Linked DNA regions of Homo sapiens: regions 1, 2 and 4 are each linked to region 3. Evidence: fine-mapped expression QTL. A gene starts in region 3. Each other region holds a variant in brackets. All regions are shown on one strand. Distances are from middle to middle.

The links. PIP is the estimated chance that this variant, and not a neighbour inherited with it, causes the effect.
Region 1: its variant is fine-mapped to the expression of BLTP3B in whole blood (INTERVAL, PIP above 0.99).
Region 2: its variant is fine-mapped to the expression of BLTP3B in whole blood (TOPMed, PIP above 0.99).
Region 4: its variant is fine-mapped to the expression of BLTP3B in whole blood (INTERVAL, PIP above 0.99).

Annotation. Positions count from the first base shown.
Region 1 is chr12:100,070,649-100,075,803 of GRCh38, reverse strand. BLTP3B (bridge-like lipid transfer protein family member 3B) reads left to right here. Exons shown (of 21, transcript NM_015054.2): 12 at 2,991-3,132. Among named protein-coding and RNA genes, the nearest start is that of BLTP3B, 70 kb to the left of the region's middle. The variant T/AT (reference allele first, on the strand shown) is at 2,441.
Region 2 is chr12:100,115,418-100,120,572 of GRCh38, reverse strand. All of the region lies in intron 1 of BLTP3B (bridge-like lipid transfer protein family member 3B), which reads left to right. Among named protein-coding and RNA genes, the nearest start is that of BLTP3B, 25 kb to the left of the region's middle. The variant G/A (reference allele first, on the strand shown) is at 3,072.
Region 3 is chr12:100,139,870-100,145,024 of GRCh38, reverse strand. It overlaps BLTP3B (bridge-like lipid transfer protein family member 3B), which reads left to right and starts at 2,151. Exons shown (of 21, transcript NM_015054.2): 1 at 2,151-2,433. The coding sequence starts at 2,390. BLTP3B-DT (BLTP3B divergent transcript) reads right to left here and starts at 1,970. Exons shown (of 2, transcript NR_186018.1): 1 at 1,682-1,970; 2 at 354-485. RefSeq lists silencers at 1,987-2,166, 2,487-2,736 and an enhancer at 1,843-2,606.
Region 4 is chr12:100,107,632-100,112,786 of GRCh38, reverse strand. BLTP3B (bridge-like lipid transfer protein family member 3B) reads left to right here. Exons shown (of 21, transcript NM_015054.2): 2 at 4,239-4,401. Among named protein-coding and RNA genes, the nearest start is that of BLTP3B, 33 kb to the left of the region's middle. The variant TC/C (reference allele first, on the strand shown) is at 3,019.

The DNA of each region.
Region 1 (5,155 bases), 69 kb after region 3:
TGAGATGGTATCTCACTGTGGTTTCGATTTACATTTCTCTGATGATTAATGATGATTAGTGTATTGAGCATTGTTTCATATGCTTGTTGGCTGCACATATGTCTTCTTTTGAGAAGTGTGTGTTCATGTCCTTTGCCCACTTTTTAATGGTGTTTGGTTTTTGCTTGTTGACTTTTGTTCAAGTTCCTTATAGATTCTGGATATTAGACCTTTGTCAGATGAATAATTTGTGAGTATTTTCTCCCATTGTGTAGGATGTCTGTTGACTCTGTTGATAGTTTATTTTGCTGTATAGAAGCTCTCCAATGAGGTCTCACTTGTCTATTTTTGTTTTTGTTGTGATTGCCGTTGAGGTCTTAGCCATAAATTCTTTGCTAAAGCCTATGTCCAGAATGGTATTTCCTAGCTTTTCTTCTAGGACTTTTATAGTTTGACTTCTTATATTTAAATATTTGTTCCATCTTGAGTTAATTTTTGTATATAGTAGAAGGTGTAGCCGGGCGTGGTGGCTCACACTTGTAATCCCAGCATTTTGAGAGGCCGAGGTGGGCGGATCACGAGGTCAGGAGTTCGAGACCAGCCTGGCCAACATAGTGAAACCCCATCTCTACTAAAAATACAAAACTTAGCTGGGCGTGGTGGTGCGCGCCTGTAATCCCAGCTACTCAGGAGGCTGAGGCAGGAGAATTGCTTGAACCCGGGAGGCAGAGGTTGCAGTGAGCTGAGATCATGCCATTGCACTCCAGCCTGGGTGACAGAGCTAGACTCCGTCTCAAAAAAAAAAAAAAGGAAGGTGTAGGGGTCCAGTTTCATTCTTCTAAATATGACTAGCCAGTCATCCAGGCACCATTCATTGAATAGGGTGTCCTTTCCCCATTGCTTGTGATTGTTGAATTTGTCAAAGATCAGATAGTTATAGGTGTGCGATTTTATTTCTGGGTTCTCTATTCTGTTCCATTGATCTATGTCTCTGTTTTTGTATCAGTACCATGCCATTTTGGTTCCTTATAGTATAGTTATGTAATGTCTCCAGCTTTGTTCTTTTTTCTTAGAGTTGCTTTGGCTATTCAGGCTTTTGGGTTTCATATGAATTTTTAAATATTTTAAAATTTTTTTCTAATTTTGTGCAAAATGATGTTTGTAGTTTGATAGGAATGACATTGAGTCTGTATATTGTTTTCAGCAGTGTGGACTTTTTTTTTTTTTTTTTGAAACAGAGTCTTGTTCTGTTGCCCAGGCTGGAATACAGTGGTGTTAGCTCACTACAACCTCCGTCTCCCGAGTTCAAGCGATTTTTATGCCTCAGCCTCCCAAGTAACTGGGATTACAGGCGTGTGCCACCACGCCCAGCTGATTTTTGTATTTTTGGTAGAGATGGGGTTTCGCCATGTTGGCCACGCTGGTCTCGAGCTCCTGGCCTCAAATGATCTGCCCGCCTCAGCCTCTCACCGTGCTGGGATTACAGGTGTGAGCCATCATGCCTGGCCCAGTTCTTGTAGAGATCTTTTATCTTTTGGTTAGATGTATTCCTAGGATTTGTTGTTGCTGTTGTTGTTGTTGTTGTTTGGCTTTCAGCTTGAATGTTACTGGTATATAAAAATACTGCTGATTGTTTACATTGATTTTGTATCCTGAAACTTTATTGAAGTTGCTTATCAGTCATGGGAGTCTTTTCGTGGAGTTTAGCATTTTCTAGGTATAGAATCATATTGTCAGCGAAGAGAAATAATTTGACTTCTTTTCCTATTTGGATGCCCTTTCTTTCTTTCTCTTGCCTGATTGCTCTAGCTAGAACTTCCAGTACTATTTTGAGTAGGAGTTGTGAGAGGGGGCATCCTTGTCTTGTTCCATTCCTTAAGGGAAATGATTTCAGCTTTTGCCGCTTCAGAACGATATTAGCTGTGAGTTTGTCATAGATTACTCTTACTGTTTTGAGGTATGTTTCTTTGATTCATAGTTTGTTGAGGGTTTTTATTGTGAAGGGACGTTGGATTTTATCAAAAGCATTTTCTTTGCCTATTGAGATAATCATATGGTTTTTGTTTTTAGTTCTGTTTGTGGTGAATCATATTTATTGATTTGTGTATGAAACATAGTCTTTTTGGAAAATGAATTCGAGCGATCAAACTATTTGACGGAAGTGTTTATAGCTATTATTTTTAAATTAATTTTTTATTGTGGTAAGGTATGACTGAATTTACAATAATAATTATATATATATACACACACATATACATATTTAGGTTTTTGCCATTGAAAGTAATGGCAAAACTGCAATTACTTTTGCACCAACCTAATAATATCGGCTAGGTGCAGTGGCTCACGCCTGTAATCCCAGCACTTTGGGAGGCTGAGGTGGGTGGATTGCTTGAGGTCAGGAGTTTGAGACCAGCCTGGCCAACATGGCGAAACCCCGTCTCTACCAAAAAAAAAAAAAAAA[T/AT]CTGTGTCTGTATCTATATATTATATAATAATTGTCGTTAAGCACATTCACGTTGTTGTGTAACCAGTACCATTATTTGTCTCCAGAATTTTTATTATCTCAAGCAGAAACTGTATATAGCTCTGTTACTTTTCATGGTAATGGAGAGATTATGGTAAAGATTATTTTAAACAGCGTACGGGGAAGCATTCTGGATTTGAGGACTTGGATCTATGTCCTGACTGCCATTTACTTATCTATATTATCTGATAGAATATCGTTATCATTTTTCTGTTGTTTTTAAGGCTCACAATAATAAGTTTGTAAGGAATATTGTACAGTGTTGATTTTGTGATTGATAAGGATCCAAAAAGATTATAGAGTTTTCTGAATAGTTGATGGGTGTTTAAAAATAATTCCATGTGAAGTTAAATATATAATAAAGTTTACACTGGAAATTAACCATTAGCAAAGTTTTGTAAGTAGTTTTAAAAGTACTGTCTGGGTTGCATAAATTATTTGGAAAGGTTTTTATTCAGTGTGATTTCAGTAAACTTATTTATCTTTTCAGGTCTCTACAGCGGAACAATGTCGTTCTTCCCCCAAAAGCATGATTTGCTGCAATAAAAAATCCCTATATCTTCCACAAGAAATGTCAGCTGTCTATATAGAATTCACAGAATATTACTATCCAGATGGAAAGGATTTTCCAAGTAAGAGAGTTTTTAATTATTATTTGTCCATTATTTGAGAAAGTATTTTTTTCTTGTTAATATTTTTGAGTTTTATAAATATGAAAAATAAATAAAACTGTATTGTTCCTTATTTATTATTAGTTTTTTGAGAGCTAGCATCTCACTGTGTTGCCCAGGCTGATCTCAAACTCCTAGGCTCAAGCCATACTCCTGCCTTGGCCTCCCAAAGTGTTGGGATTGCAGGCATGAACCACTGTGCCCAGCCCCTATTGTTCTTTATTCTTATTGTGTATAGTGCATAAGTCTAGTCTAACAGTTTTAGATGTTGTTATTATTTGTTTATGTATCCTTTTCCCTCCCTAGCTTGTAGAATCCTTGATGGCAGGAATCATGAGGTTTTTTCGTTTTTTGTTTTTTGTTTTTTTTTCAAGGCAGAGTCTCGCTCTGTTGCCCAGGCTGGAGTGCAGTGGCACGATCTCGGCTCACTGCAGCCTTGGCCTCCCAGGTTCAAGCGATTCTTGTGCCTCAGCCTCCTGAGTAGCTGGGATTACAGGCATGCACCACCAGGCCCAGCTAATTTTTCTGTGTTTTACTAGAGACAGGGTTTCACCATGTTGGCCAGGCTGATCTTGAACTCCTGACCTCAAGTGATCTGCCCACCTTGGACTCCCATAGTGCTGGGATTATAGGCATGAGCCGCCATGTCCAGCACATCTGGTATTTATGTTCATTTTATTCCAGATATTCAACTTACTTTGTGCTTAATAGCTGTTTGTTAAAGAATCAATGAAAGCTAGGTTATTTGTAGAATAAAGTCATTTGTTTCCCCTTAGTAAAACTCCATTTATATGTCAGCTATATAACTTCATTTATATATTATTGAAAAAGTAACTGAAGTTGTCCTTTTAGCTGTAGAGAATTTTTTTGACTGTTTTAAAATGCCTAAATGTATACTTTGGGCAACTTTTAGCATTTACAATTTTCAGAAATATTGAATTACATGAATTTTTATTTTTAGAAGCTTCTTTGGCTTTCTAACGTTAAAATGATTGTACATTTGTATTCTTTGAATATTAAAACTCTTTAGCTTCCTAACATTAAAATGATTGTACATTTGTATTCTTTGAATATTAAAACTCTCTGCTATTGTCTCAGTTCATCTAGAAATTCCTTTTTTTTTTTTTTTTTTTTTGGAGACATAGTCTTGCTCTGTCACCCAGGCTGGAGTGCGGTGGCGTGATCTTGGCTCACTGGAACCTCTGCCTCCCGGGCCCAAACAATTCTTGTGCCCCAGGCTTCCGAGTAGCTGGGACTACATGTGTGTGCCAACACTCCCGGCTAATTTTTGTGTTTTTGATAGAGATAGGGTTTTGTCATGTTGGCCAGGCTGGTCTCTAACTCCTGGCCTCAAGTGGTCTGCCTACCTCAGCCTCCCGAAGTGCTGGGATTACAGGTGTGAGCCACTGCACCTGGCCCATCTCGGAATTCTTAAACTAAATGTTGCCCTCTTTTCTGTGATACCTTTTTCATCATGCTAGCTGAAAATCATAGTTGAAAATATTTAGATGAAATAGGTTTTGTTATCAGAGGCATAACAAGTTTTATGTCCTTTCTTTAAAAGTAGAACTCCAAAATACTTAGACCTACTTGCCCATTTATTTAATATTGATTTATTAATATATGTTGTTTTTTTTTCTGAGACAGATTCTTGCTCTGTTGCCCAGACTGGCATGCAGTGGTGCGATCTCAGCTCACTGCAACCTCTGCCTACCAGGTTCAAGTGATTCTCCTGAGTAGCTGGGACTACAGGCATGCACCACCACATCTGGCTGATTTTTGTTAATTTTTTTTTTAGTAGAGGTGAGGTTTCTTTTCTCCTTGTTGGCCAAGCTGGTCTTGAGCTCTAGGCCTCAAATGATCTGACCTCCTTGGCTTCCCAAAGTGCTGAGATTACAGGCATGAGCCACCGCACCCACCCTATTAATATATGTTTTTAGTTTCAAAAGGAACTTCTGATCCTTATACCATAGATTTTGCCTTT
Region 2 (5,155 bases), 24 kb after region 3:
AGTATAGTTAGCCTTTTTAATTTTAGCTATTTTAGTGGATAAGTAGTGGTATCTTACTGTGGTTTTTAATTTGCAGTTTTCTAATGACTAATGTTGGGCATCTTTTCAAGTGCCTATCTGCCATCTGTGTCTTCTTTGGTTCCAAGGTCCCTTTAAATCTTTTGCCTATTTTATTTTTTATTTTTATTTTTTTCTTTTTTGAGATGGAATCTTGCTCTGTCACCCAGGTTGGAGTGCAGTGGTGCGATCTTGGCTCACTGAAACCTCCACCTCCTAGGTTCAAGCAATTCTGCCTCAGCCTCCCGAGTAGCTGGGATTACAGGCGCCTGTCTCACGCTCAGCTAATTTTTGTATTTTTAGTAGAAATGAGGTTTTGCCATTTTGGCCATGCTGGTCTCAAACTCCTTATCTCAGGTGATCCGCCCGCCTAGGCCTCCCGAAGTGCTGGGATTACAGGCGTGAGGCACCACGCCCAGGCCTTTTGCCTGTTAGTGAATTGTCTTACTTTCAAGTTGTAAGAATTTAAAAAAAATTGTAGGTACAAGTCTTTTTTCAAATATATGCTTTGGAAATATTTTTTCCCAGTCTATGGTTGCCCTGTAGTTACAGTGTCTTTCAAAGGGCAGAGGTTTTAATTTTGATCCACTAACTTATTTTTTTCTCCTATGATTTGTGCATTTTTTGTTGCGTTAAATCTACCAAACTCAAGGTTACTAATATTTTCTTCAGGAGTTTTTAAGTTGTAGTTCTTAGATTTAGGTCTGTGATAATTTAGAGTTAATTTTTGTTTATGGGGTGAGGTAAAGGTCAAGGATTTTTTTGTTTTTTGTTTTTTTTGCATATGGCTGTAACATCATTCTGGTACCACTTCTTAAAAATATTATTTTCATTGACTTGTTTTTGCACCTTTGTTGGAAATTAGCTAACCATGAATTTGGGTCTTTTTCTGGACTCTGTATTTTGTTGCATTTATTATTTATTTACACCCACCATTATCAGACTGCCTCGATTACTGTAGCTTTTAGATAAGTCTTGAAATTGGCAGTATAATGTTTCCAACTTTGTTCATCTTTTTCAGAGTTATTTTGGATATTCTAGGTCTTCTACATTTTCATGAAAATTTTAGAATCAGTATGTCATTTCTCTCAAAAAAGAAGCCTGCTTGGGTTTTGCTTAGGGTTGCCTTGAATCTGTAAGTCTTTTTGAGAGAATTGATGACATTTTAACAGTATTGAGTTTAATCCACTAATATGTTTTATTTCTTCATTTATTTAGATCTTCTTCAATTTCTTGCAACAGTATTTTGTAGTTTTCAGTTTCTAGGTCTTGCACACCTTTTGACAAATTTATCCCTAAAAATTTCATATTTCTTATGCTAATGTTAATGGTAGTTTAAAATATTCAGTTTCTGATTGTTGCTACATATAGAAACATAATTTATTTATTTATTTTTTTATTTTATTTCATTTTTGAGACAGAGTCTGGCTCTGTCGCCCAGGCTGGAGTGCAGTGGCGCGATCTCGGCTCACTGCAACCTCCGCCTCCTGAGTTCAAGCAATTCTCCTGCCTCAGCCTCCCGAGTAGCTGGGACTACAGGTGCATGCCACTAAGCCCAGCTAATTTTTGTATTTTTAGTAAAGACAGAGTTTTACCATGTTGGCCAGGCTGGTCTTTGAACTCCTGACGTTGTGATCTGCTCGCCTTGGCCTCCCACAGTGCTGGAGTTACAGGCATGAACCGCAACACCCAGCTGATTTCTTTATTATAATTTTTATTGAGTGAAATTTACATACAATAAAATGAATAAACTTTCCATAATCAGCTCTGATTTTTTAAAAATAAGCTTTTAATCTTAGAATAGTTATGGATTTATAGAAAGGTTGTGAAGATAATGCAGAATTCTCATACCCAACATTTAGTCTCTCTTACTATTAGCATTTTACATTCATATGGTTCATCACAATTAACTAATGTTGATAATTATTATAGGCCATACTCTGTTCAAATTTCCTTAGTATTTCTTTTACCCAATGTCCTTTTTCTATTCCATGGTCCCATTCCAAATATATTACATTTAGTCATCATGTCTTTTTAGGCTCCTCTTGGTTGTGCCCATTTCTCAGACGTTCCTTGTTTTTGAAGACCTTGAGAGTTTTTTGTTTTGTTTTGTTTTGTTTTGTTTTGAGACGGTCTCACTCACTCTCCCAGACTGGAGTGCAGTAGTGTGATTATGACTCACTGCAGCCTCAACCTCCTGGGCTTAAGCAGTCCTCCTGCCTCAGCCTCCTGAGTAGCTAGAACTACAGGCATGCACCACTACACCTGGCTAATATTTTATTTTTTTGGAGAGGCATAAGCCACCGTGCCCAGCCAACCTTGAAAGTTTTGAGGAGACCTGGCCACGTGTTTTGTACAGTGTCCTTCAATTGGGGTTTGTCTGCTGTTTTCCTTTAAAAAAAATACAAAAATTTATATAAAATTACTCATTTTTTTTTCTGGGACCAAGAGAAATGCCAATTTCAACTGTGTCAAGATATCTTTGGTTGCTCTATAAAATCGATACACATAAGTCCAGGATTGATAAGAGTAGTATAAAAAAGGCATTCTTTGTATCTCCTCCACGATAAATCTGTGATTTTAAATCTGATGCATATAAATGAGTCCCCCAGATAACTTCCTAAAATGGAGATTTCTAGGCCCTGCTCCATATCAAGAGCACCAGAATCTCTGGGAATGGGCTTGAAATGGAGTAGTTTTAAAAAGCACCCCAAAGGTCAGGTGCGGTGGCTCATGCCTGTAATCCCAGCACTTTGGGAGGCCACAGCAGGAGGATTGCTTGAGCCCAGGAGTTTGAGACCAGCCTGGGCAACACAGCGAGACCCCATCTCTACAAAAAAATTAAAAATGAGCTGGACGTGGTGGTGCTGGGCATGTTGAGGAGGTCAAGGTGGAGGCAGGGGAGGTGGAGGCAGGGGAGGATCTTAGGAGGTCGAGGCAGGGGAGGATCACTTGAGCCCAGGAGTTCAAGGCTGCAGTGAGCTGTGATCACACCACTGCCCTCCAGCCTGGGC[G/A]ACAGAACGAGACTGCCTCAAAATAAATAAATAAAAAGTTCTGCAGGTAATTCTGAAGTCACTAGTGTATGTCTACCCTTTTTCTTAGGATTAGATTGGCATTAGGGGTTTTTGGCAAGGAGACCACAGAGGTTAGTTAAGAGCTCTTTTTATTATGTCAAATCAGGGGTACATATTATCAACATGTCTTATTGCCGATGTTGACGTTGATAACCTGGCTGATGTAGCATTTGCCAAGTTCTCCACTGTAAAGTTATTCTTTTCCCCATTTTCTTACTGAACATTTTGGAAGGAAGTACTATGTGCAGCCCTCACTAAAAGAATGAGGAGTTATGCTCCACCTCCCTGAGACTAGAATATCTATGTAATTTTTTTGGAACTTTTCTGCCAGGAAGATTTCTCTATTTTCTCCAAGTTATTTATTTATTTAATCATATGTTTATATTAGTGTAGACTTCTGTATTTTTGTTTTATAGTTTGTGTTATTATCCAGTACTGTTTTATTTATTTTGTTGCTCAGATTCTTTCAGCTTTGGCTATTGGTAATTCTTTCTTACGGCTCCTCTGTCCCTTCAACTGATTTATTTTTATATTGGCCTTATATCCTGCAACATTGCTACACTCATTTTTTAGTTCTGGCAATGTCTTTAATAATTCTGTATGATTTTCTACACAGGTGATCATGTCATCTGGGAAAAAATAATTTTACTACTTTTCAAAACCAGATGCCTTTTATATATTTTTCTTACCTTATTGTGTTGGCTAGAACCTTCAATACATTGTTGGAAAAAAGTGATGAGAGCAAACACCCTTGCCTTGTCCCTGTCTTAGGGGAAAAGCAATTTTAGTCTTTTCTCATTACACGTAATTTTAGCTGTAGAGTTTTTGTAGATGTCCTTTAGAGTTTTGGGGAAGTTCTCTTCTGTTCCTGTCTTGTTGAGAGTTATTTTTTCATGAATGGGTGTTGACTTTTGTAAAATGCTTTTTTGGGCTCTATTGAGAACATGATGTAATTTTACCTTTTTTTTTCTTTTCTTTTTTTTTTTTTTTTTTGAGACAGGATCTTGCTCTGTTGCCCAGGCTGGAGTGTGGTGGTATGATCTAGGCACCAACTCCACCTCCTGGGCTCAAATAGTCCTCTCACCTCAGCCTTCTGAGTAACTTGGACTACGGGCCCCTGCCACTATGCTTAGCTAACTTTTAATTTTTTGTACAGATGAGGTCTCACTACTTCTGGGCTCAAGCCATCCTCCCACGTCAGCTTCCCAAAGTGTCAGGATTACAGCCGTGAGCCACTGTGTCTGGCTAGATTTTACTTTTTTTTTTTTTTTTGAGACAGTCTCATTCTGTCACCCGGGCTGGAGTACATTGGCACCATCTCGGCTCACTGCAACCTCTGCCTCCTGGGTTCGAGTGATTCCCCTGCCTCAGCCTCCTGAGTAACTGGGATTGCAGGTGTGCACCACCACACCCAGCTAACTTTTTTTGTATTTTTAGTAGAGATGGGATTTCATCATGTTGGCCAGGCTGGTCTTGAACTCCTGACCTTAGGTGATCCGCCTGCCTTAAAGTGCTGGGATTACAGGCGTGAGCCACCTCGCCTGGCCTAGATTTTACTTTTAATGTGGTGAATTGCATTAGTTGGTTTTTGGTTTTAAACCAGCCCTCATTTCTAGAATAAACACTTGGTCAAGATGTATTATACTTGTGTGTTTTTTTTGTTTTTTTGTTTTTTTTTCCCAGACAGGATCTCACTCTGTCACCAAGGCTGGAGTACAGTGGCACGATCACAGCTCTGCAGCCTCAATCTCCCGGGCTTGAGGGATCTTCCTACCTCAGTCTCCCAGGTAGCTACAGGCGTGTGCCACCGTGCCTAGCTAATTTAAAAATTTTTTGTAGAGACAAGGTCTCACTATGTTGCCCAGGCTTGCCTGAAACTCCTGAGCTAAAGTGATCCACCTGGCTTTGGCCTCCCGAATTGCTGGGATTCCAAGTGTGAGCCACGACGCCCGGCCTATACTTACTTATTGTTTTAAACTTTAGTTCATACCTTGGCTTGTGAAATCATTTTAGTTATGATCACT
Region 3 (5,155 bases):
TTAGCCTGGTAATCCCAGCTACTTGGGAGGCTGAGGCAGGAGAACTGATTGAACCTGGGAGGCGGAGGTCGCAGCGAGCCAAGATCGTGCTGCTGCATTCCAGCCTGAGCGATGGAGTAAGACTGTCTCAAAAATAAAATAAAAATAAAATGAAATGTTGAGTGTAGTCAACTTACACGTCTATCCTTTCCATTCTTCAAAAAGGGCCAGCTTATTGGACTATGTGTAAACTACTTCCCACCCAACTCCCAAGATGTACAACCACACATCTTGCTAATACATCCCTCAGGGGTGGTACAATTTCTTTTCCTGTTTTAGATATCACTAGTGTTAAAAGAAAAACTTCAGCCAAATTAAATTTAAAGGAGTTTAACAATGAACGATTCCTGAGTCTGGCAGCCCCCATAATCACAGCAGATTCAGAGAGACTCCAGCACAGCCACATGCTGGGAGCAGATTTCTGGCCAGCAAAAGGAAAGTGAGGTCTAGAAAATGGAAGTGAGGTACAGAAACAACTGGATTGCTTACAGCTCAGTGTTTGCCTTATTTGAACACAGTCTGAACAGTTGGCTACATCTGGCCAAAACTCAGTGATTGGCACAGGTGTGGGCTATGGTCGGTTTATACCTCTGCTTATTTTCATAAGTTCATGATGTACAGAAAAACCTTTAGGCTGAACTCAATTACGTAAGGAGGCAGTGTTAGGCTAAACTTGACTTAACACTGAGTAATTTTTTTTTTTTTTGAGACAGTCTTGCTCTGTCGCCCAGGCTGGAGTGCAGTGGCTTGATCTCAGCTCACTGCAACATTTGCCTCCCGGGTTCAAGCAATTCTCCTGCCTCAGCCTCCTGAGTAGCTGGGATTACAGGCGCCCGCCACTATGCCCAGCTAATTTTTGTATTTTTTTTTTGTAGACACAGAGTTTCACCATGTTGGTCAGGCTGGTCTTGAACTCCTGACCTCAAGTGATCTGCCTGCCTCGGCCTCCCAAAGTGCTGGGATGACAGAAGTCGTCATTTTAATCTCTGAAAATGTTAGCTCTGTTTGGGATTGGGTGGGGTGGAGGTGTAGAATTGTAACAGTTTTCCCTAGTTCAACAATTTCCTTCCTTCCTTACAGAACTTTTCATATGATATTTACACCTTTAGGTTCAACCTAGTGAAGTGGGTAAGGCTGATGATTAATCTATTTCACAGATGATTAAAATGAAACTAATAGTAAAGAAATTATTTTCCCCAGGATAACACAGCTAGAAAATACCAGAGCCAGGACTTGAATTATACACCTTCTAATTCCTAGGTCCTAGACTACTAGGAACCATTGTCAACCTTTACTTCCCTTAGAATAGCAATAACCAAAGGAAACATTAAATTGCCACATTTAGGTAAGGGAAAGGCAGGACACCTTAACAAAAGAAAAAAAAAAAACACCAAAAACAAAAACCTAAGGAAGAATATGAAGAAAGGTGAGTAGGTCAAGAGAGCAAAGCAAGCACAGGAGTTAATGGCCGATTCTTAAAACATTCTAAGGAGGCCGGGTGCAGTGGCTCACGCCTGTAATGTCAGCACTTTGGGAGGCTAGGAGGGTGGATCACGAGGTGAGAAGTTCGAGACCTACTGGCCAATATGGTGAAACCTCGTCTCTAATAATACAAAAATTAGCCGGCCGTGGTGGTGCGCACCTGTAATCCCAGCTACTCAGGAGGCTGAAGCAGGAGAATCGCTTGAACCCTGGAGGTGGAGGTTGCAATGAGCCGAGATCGTACCACTGGACTCCAGCCTGTGTGACAGAGCAAGACTTGTCTCAAAAAAAAAAACAAACAAGCAAAAAAATAAAAAACATTCTGAGGAAATGAATAAGGGAAGTAGGACGTGGAAGTAAAAATCAGCGACGGGTCAGCGATGGAGGCGGGAACACCAGCAGAGGGAAGGAGGGAGGATTAAGGCCAAGAAGGATGGTGTATTGAGAGTCAAGGGCCCTGTGTCGCGAGGGCTAAGAACCCTGGCGCCAATGCCACAAACCTCCCGCCCCCGCCCAGAGCCCAGCCAGAGCCCAGCCAGAGCCCGCCCAGAGCCCGCCCAGAGCCGGCGTTGGCCCCGCCCCGCCTCGTGCCGGCCCCGCCTGGAGCCGCCCCGCCCCCGCCCTCCACCGAGTCTCTTAGGTGATGCTGCAGCCAAGATGGCGCCCGCGGCGGCCGTGGCGGCCTGAGCGTGATGCTCCGGGTTCTCGGCGGCGGCTGTGGCCTTGGCCGGGGCCTTGGGTCTCTCCCGGTCGTGAGCGATCAGCGCCTCTCCGCCGGCCGGGCTAGCCGGGACAGAGAGGAGACGGCCACGAAGAGAGGAGGCAGTGAGCAACAGGACGAGACCGCGGCGTCTCCAGCCTCGGTACCATGGCCGGGATCATCAAGAAACAAATCTTGAAGCACCTCTCCAGGTCAGTGAGCGCCTCGGTGTCGGCGCCAGTCGGCCTCCACCCCAGCCCGCACTGGAGTCAGCCTGCGGCTTCGGGGGCGGCGGCGCCTGGCGGCTGTGCGGGAGGCGACCTTCGGACTTCCCCGCTCTGGCCGGGGCAGAGGTCGCGGCCCCGGATCTCTTGTCGCCGGCGGCGCCGGGGGCTGGCCTCACGAATCGGCCCCTGACGCGTCTTCTCCCAGGGTGGGCGCGCGGAGGAGCCCGGAGTGCGGAGCGCGGCGGGCTGGGATCGCTCCCGGCGCGGCGTCTGGGGGCGTCCCGGCTCGGCTCTGTGCGGTACTGAGCGGAGGCTGGAGGTGGCCTGGCGTCACCCAAGTGCCTGGTTAATGTGCTGGGCTCTAACTCGAGTTCGGTGCTCCTTCCCCTTGGAGCAGAGCGGTTCCGTTAACCGAGGGCTTCTGGCGCAGTGTGGACGCTCAGTGGAGGCTGTGTTCTCAGTGGAACGTTAACCTTGTGATTGTTCTGAATTCCTCCCACCTTGGCGTTCCCGCTCTGTGGCATCAGAGGGTGTGCCTGTTTGCACAGTTAGGATTTGTTTTAGGTAAATAAGCAGAGTTCGCAGCTTTGGCAGGTTCTTTCTGGAGTCCTATGAGACCCACATCATTATTACTGAACATTTTTTTTTTTTGGTTTTTGCTCTTTTTCCTCTGCAACTCTAAAATTCAGGGAGTTAACATCTGTGGTGATTAAACCCAAGACATGTCATTCTCTCCATTTCATAACGCGGTTTTAGTCAGAAACATGACTCAGTAAGGCTGGCAGTTTGTTACTGCTCTTGGCTTCTCCGTGTTTGTCTCAAGACACAGGCTAAATGTAGGCTCTTGTTCCAAGTTGTTACCAGCGAACTCAAAGCCCTTGGTTAGGATCCCTTTCTGTTCGATTTGTAAGTTAATTTTAACTAATTTTGGGAAGACACGGGTATGATTATAGACTTGTATAGTAAACATAATTCTTGATTCCCCAGATTGTCTTATACCACAGGTTATATATTGGGAACAGAATTCTACTTCTGTGATTCAGCAAATATTTTCCTCACTTATAATACTGAATAAGATATAGCACTTTTCTTAAAAGTAGCAAAGTATAGCAGCGTGTGTGTGTGTGTGTACATATATATACATATGTACATATATACATATACATATATACACATATATACACATACATATATATGTGTACTACATATATATGTGTATACACTACACATATATATGTGTATATATGTAGTATTTTTTTAGTAGAGACTGGGTTTCACCAGGCCAGGCTGGTCTTGAACTCCCAACCTCAGGTGATCCGCGGTCCTCGGCCTCCCAGAGTGCTGGGATTACAGGTGTGAGCCCCCACGCCCTGCATGAATATGTATTTCTTAATGTTATCACTCATTGAAAAGTTTCTTTTAAAATTATATATATGGCCCAATCTTGAACTATCTTATTTTGGAAGGTTTTATCTATTTTTAATTTATGTCCTCCCGCCTTTCTCATACCCAGCTCCACAAGAAAATACAGATCTGCAGAAAATGATTTGAATGCCTACTTTCTCACTCGTCCAAGGATGATGCTGCATAGCTAGTACCACTCTAGATGCTTGGAAGAAAAGTTAATTCAATCAACAGATAGTGCATTAGAGTTTAATTCTTTTATAGAACTCCATTTGAGAGGGGCTCTTAAAAATTAAGAGCATGCATACCAAAGTATAATAAAAAAAATTAAGAACAAAGATGTAATGGCTTACTGCATGAGATAGAAAACACCCATATATTGAAAATTGAGTCTTTAGGGCTAGTTTTTATTTTATTTTATATATATATATATATATATATATTTTTTTTTTTTTTTTTTTTTTTTTTGAGACAGAGTCTCACTCTGTTTCCCAGACTGGAGTGCAATGGCATGATCTCGGCTCACGGCAGCCTCTGCCTCCTGGCTTCAATCAGTTCTCCTGCCTCAGCCTCCCGAGTAGCTGGGATTACAGGCATGCGCCACCACGCCTGGCTAATTTTGTATTTTTAGTAGAGACAGGGTTTTTCCATGGTGGTTAGGCTGGTCTCAAACTCCCAACCTCAGGTGATCCGCCTGCCTTGGCCTCCCAAAGTGCTGGGATTACAGGTGTGAGCCACCGTGCCTGGCCCTTAGGGTTAGTTTCTAAATCTGTATGATTTGTAATAGCTGTGTGATAAATAGTGTGATGAGGATTTTTTTTTTTTTCAGAGATGAGTTTTTGGGACACTTGAGTTTTCAGTTATTTCATATTTCAAAACATCCTTAACTCAGGTGACTAAAGAGTATCAAATTTTTATTTTTGGTTAATAAGTTAATCTTACTGCTAATTGCTGTCATCTCCTAAGAAAAATAGTTATTCAGAAATCTAAAGGCAGCTCGTAATTGACAAAAGAAGGCAGGTGTTGTGATAAATTATAGTTACTCAGGAAGGAATGAACTTTTGAAATTACCTGGTTCAAGTTTAATTTTATAGAATATCCAGTAATGAAGATGTCACTACATTGACCTAGTGGTCTGGGATACAGTAGAATATAGTTTACCAGGAAATAGTTGAACATACTAGTTTCTAATACTAGACATCATGTGAGGCCTGTGTATGCAACCCATTGCACCTTCTCAAAGGTGACCTTTCCTGACCACAGAGTTTAAAATTGTGAGCCCCCATATTGCCAGTCCTCTTGC
Region 4 (5,155 bases), 32 kb after region 3:
CCGGGTTCAGGCAATTCTCCTGCCTCAGCCTCCTGAGATTCTTGGCTTTTTGTGCATTTATTCTCTGTTCCCTTAACCAAATTATAAATCTTTGATTATATGGACCTTTTTGTTTTGTTTTGTTTTGCCCTTAAATGTTTACTTAGTGCAGTGCACATAATTTAGACCCTAATAATGGTGTATTGATTGTAAAATGTATAATCTAAATCAAGTCTACTTTTTTCATTTGCTTGGAAATTTTATTGCTGTTGTTAGCTATTATTTTTGTTTTTTGTTTTGTCTTTGAGACAAAGGCTCTGTCACCCAGGCTGGAGTGCAGTGGCAAAATTATGGATCACTGCAGCCTTGACCTCCCAGGCTCAAGCAATCCTCCCAGCTCAGTCCCCTCAGTAACTGGGACTACAGGAGTGTTCCACTATGCCTGGCTAATTCTTTTTTAAATTTTTTGTAGACATAGGGTCTCACTAATATAGTCACTCACTAATATATAGACCAGCCCAGGCTGGTCTCAAACTCTTGGGCTCAAGTGATCTTCTTGCCTTGGCCTCTCAAACTGCTGAGATTTCAAGCATGAGCCACTGCTCCTGGCTAAATTACATATATTTTAATCCTCCTCATTTTTCACTTTTGCTCTTGCCAGGCCAGGCTTTTTTGGTTTCCCTTGAACTTTTGTCTTTATAAAAGTGGTACATGCTCGTTATAGAATACTTATACAGAGAAGTATAAATAAGGAGAAGTAAATCTAGGCTGGGTGTGGTGGTTCACACCTGTAATCCCAGCACTTTGGGAGGCTGAGGCAGGAGGATTGCTTGACCCCAGGGATTCGATATCAGCCTGAGCAACATAGTGAGTCCCTGTCTTTAAAAAATAACTAGCTGGGGCTGGGCACGGTGGCTCATGCCTGTAATCCCAGCCAGCACTTTGGGAGGCCGAGGTGGATGGATCACAAGGTCGGGAGTTAGAGACCAGCCTGACCAACATGGTGAAACCCCGTCTCTACTAAAAATACAAAAATTAGCTGGGCGTGGTGGTGCGTGCCTGTCATCCCAGCTTCTCAGGAGGTTGAGGCAGGAGAATCGCTTGAACCCAGAAGGCAGAGGTTGCAATGAGCTGAGATTGTGCCACTGCACTCCATCCTGGGTGACAGAGCAAGACTGTCTCAAAACAAAACAAAACAAACAAACAAAAAAAAACAAAAAACTAGCTGAGCATGGTGGCATGTGCCCATGGTCCCAACTGCTTTGGAGGTGGAGGTTGCAGTGAGCCAAAATCAAACCACTGCACTCTAGCCTGGGCAACAGGGTGAGACCCTGTCTCAAAGTAAATTAAATAAATAAACTAATTAGCTGGGTGTGGTGGTCCCAGCTACTTGGAAAGCTGAGGTGGGATCACCTGAGTCCAGGCGGTCGTGGTTGAAATGAGCCATGATCACACCACTGCACTCCACCCTGGACAACAGAGCGAGACCGTGTCTCAAAAAAGCAAAAAAAAAAAAAAAAAAAAAAAAAATCTAAAACCCCACCAGCCATAGGTAGTCATGGGATTTTATGATGCATTTTTTACATACTTGAAATTATAGCACATAATTTTGTGACTTGAATTTTCATCAAACATTATAATATAAACATTTCTTTATAAGACTGGCAACATATATTACTTGATATGTATGTATTAATAATATAGTGTATTATAATTAGATGGGGTATCCCTCTTGGGACGTTTAGATTGTTTTCACTCTTTTTTTCTTGTAGATATCCTTGAAATGAACATTCTTGTACATACCCAATCAAGGTGTTGCCTGATTTCTTCACTAACCATGCTTCACCTCCATCCCCATATTCCTCCATGCCCAAGACTAAGGATATATAGTCAAATGTTAGAATATATAGTCAAATATTCTGTTTGAGTTACTCAGATTAGTCTGTTGTCCATCCTTCCTTCCCTATAAATATTACAGATAACAGTATTTCTGATATTTTTTCAATTCCACTTTATATCATCTCCCTCCTGTCTTAGAACCTTTATGCATTTTATTCCTCTGCTTGGAATACTTTCTTTCCCTACCCCCTTTTCCTCCTTGCCTAGTTAACTTCTCTTCCTTTAGATACCAGCTCAAAAGTCCCTGTTTCAGAGAAGCTCTGGATTAGAACTCCTGCTATATTCTCTCTTAGTTGTGCCATTTGATCCGTCTCACCAACTAAACTGAAAACTCCACAAGGGCAGGGACCTCAAGTGTACTGCTTCCCAGTATGTGTGTCTGCATAATGAATTCTCAATAAATACTTATTGAGTGTTGTCTTCTGGCTCTAATATTCTGCCTCAGGGAAGTGGCAGGGTTTTTTGTTTGTTATCTATGGTTAGGAATGGCATTCTATGAGAAAGCGTCGTGGTATTGAATCAAGCGTGATCAGAAGCAAGTGTAATACAGCTCAGCATCATTGGTCAAATACATGTGTTAAATGATTGTTGTATTTCTCAGTTGACATCCTGTGAGAAGATATGAATTCAGATAGAATCTGGCTCAAATTCTGGTTTGGAGTCAGTGGAGAAACATGAGTTTATTGATTGGTATTCTTGTTGACAAGTAGGGCATGTGAATAACCCAGTATATAATGTTGCTTTATATTTAATTTCCAAAAAAAGTAAAGACTAACTCTTGTTAGCCAGTAGTTTAGTTTTTTTCAGTAATTTCACTTTTGAAAAATTATTTGTTGGGCATAGTTAGTAATTTTTATTTTTTAGGGTTGTTTGGAAGATAAAGTAATGTATATGAATGTATTTCAAAGTAGATGTGTAATGTATTTTCATTGTTAGTTGTGATATTAGGCAAGTAAGTTCAAGTTTCTCCTTAGGTTTACTTATTCAAAAATTGGGTTAAAATTAGTATAGACCCTAATAGGTTATCATGGGAACTAAATGAAATAGTCACGCATGTATGCCAAGAGCTTGGAACACAGTAAACCCTTGGAAAATGCTCACTCTTACATTAACTATTTCCAATCTTTTTTTTTTTTTTTT[TC/C]TGAGACAGGGTCTCACTGTGTCACCCAGGCTGGAGTGCAGTGGCACAATCTCAGCTCACTGCATTCTCCACCTCCTGGACTGAAGCGAAACTCCCACCTCAGCCTCCTGAATAGCTGGGACTACAGGCATGCGCCAACATGCCCAGCTAATATTTTTGTATTTTTAGTAGAGACCAGGTTTCACCATGTTGGCCAGGCTGGTCTTGAACTCCTGCCCTCAAGTGATCCGCCCTCCTCAGACTCCTAAAATGCTGGGATTATAGGTGTGAGCCACGCACCTGGCTGCCTTTATCATTTCTTTGTGTTACAGACATTCCAGTTACACAATTACTTTAAAACGTACAATAAATTATTGTTGACTGTAGTCACTTTGTTGTGCTGTTGAATACTATATCTGTCTTAGTCCGTTTTTATACTGCTATGAAGACATACCTGAGACTGAAGAAAGAAGTTTAATTGGCTTACACTTCTGCATGGCTGGGGAGGCCTCAGGAAACTCACAATCATGGTGGAAGGTGATGGTGAAGCAAGGCATGTTTTACATGGTGGCAGGAGAGAGAGAGAGAGAGAGAGAGAGAGAGAGAGAGAGAGAGAGAGAGAGAGAGAGGAAAACTGCCAGACACTTTTAAATCATCAGATCTTGTGAGAACTCACTCCCTAACTATCATGAGAAACTACCCCCATGATCCAGTCACCTCCCACCAGCTCCTTCCCCTGACATGTGGGGATTACAATTAGAGGTGAGATTTGGGTGGGGACACAGAACCAAACCATATCAGTATTGTATTCATTCTACCTAATTGTATTTTTGTACCCACTACCCATTCCCACCCCTGCTCCCCACCACTACCCTTTCCAGCCTCTGGTGACCATCATTTCTACTCTTGATCTCCATGTATTCAATTGTTTTAATTTTTAGCTCCCACAAATGAACGAGAGTGTGTAAAGTTTGTCTTTCTGTGCCTGGTTTGTTTCACTTAACTGTAGTGTCCTCCAGTTCCATCCATGTTGTTGCAAATGACAGGATCTCATTCTTTTTTATGGCTGAATAATACTCCATCGTGTATATGTACCACATTTTCTTTATCCATTTGTCGTTGATGGACATTATGTTGTGTCCACTCCTATTATATTTTTAGTTCTCTGTATATTTGAAAAAATGACTCTGGAGTATAGTAACTGACACATAAATAAATGTCAATGTGTATTCTCTTTCAGATTTACCAAAAATTTATCTCCTGACAAGATAAATCTAAGTACCCTTAAAGGAGAAGGTGAACTGAAGAATTTGGAGTTGGATGAAGAAGTACTCCAGAATATGTTGGATTTGCCAACATGGCTTGCTATCAACAAAGTTTTTTGTAATAAAGCGTCCATTAGGGTGAGACTTTGATATCTGTGGCTTGATATTTGTGGAAGGCCTTTCATGTTTTCCTTCTATATTTTGGCTCTAGCTTTTAAAATACTTAATTTTAGATAATTGTGTAAAAACATTTTTATTAATATAATTTCAAAAGAAAGATACCTTTGCATAAATGTGTGCCTTATGTGTAAAGGCATATATTAACTACTTTATAGATCTTAATTTTTGTGTAAAGTGATTCCATTAATATTTCAAAATTATTAATTTGTTAATAAAATAATTGCATCCATTTGGTACATGTTCAAAGATAGTTTTTTCATAAGTTTTATTGTCAAATGGGACAATCTAAACTTGTAGTGAGTTGCTGGGCATGGTGGCTCACACCTGTAATCCCAGCACTTTGGAAGGCCGAGGTAGGCGGATTGCTTGAGCCCAGGAGTTTGAGACTAGCCTGGGTAACATAATGAGACTGCATCTATACTAAAAATAAAAATAAAAAAATAGCCCAACATGGTAGCACATGCGCCTGTAGGCCCAGCTACTTGGGAAGCTGAAGCAGGATGATCGGTTGAGTCTGGAAGGGTGAGGCTGCAGTGAGTCATGATTGTGCCACTGCACTCCAGCCTGGGTGACGGAGTGAGACCCTGTCTCAAAACAATTTTTAAAAAGTAGTGAGTAAATACTTTTCAAATGAAGACATGAGAACTAATAAATTTGCAGTTTTATCCCTTTTCTTCATTAGTTTCTTTTTCATTTTGAGATTTTTTTTTGA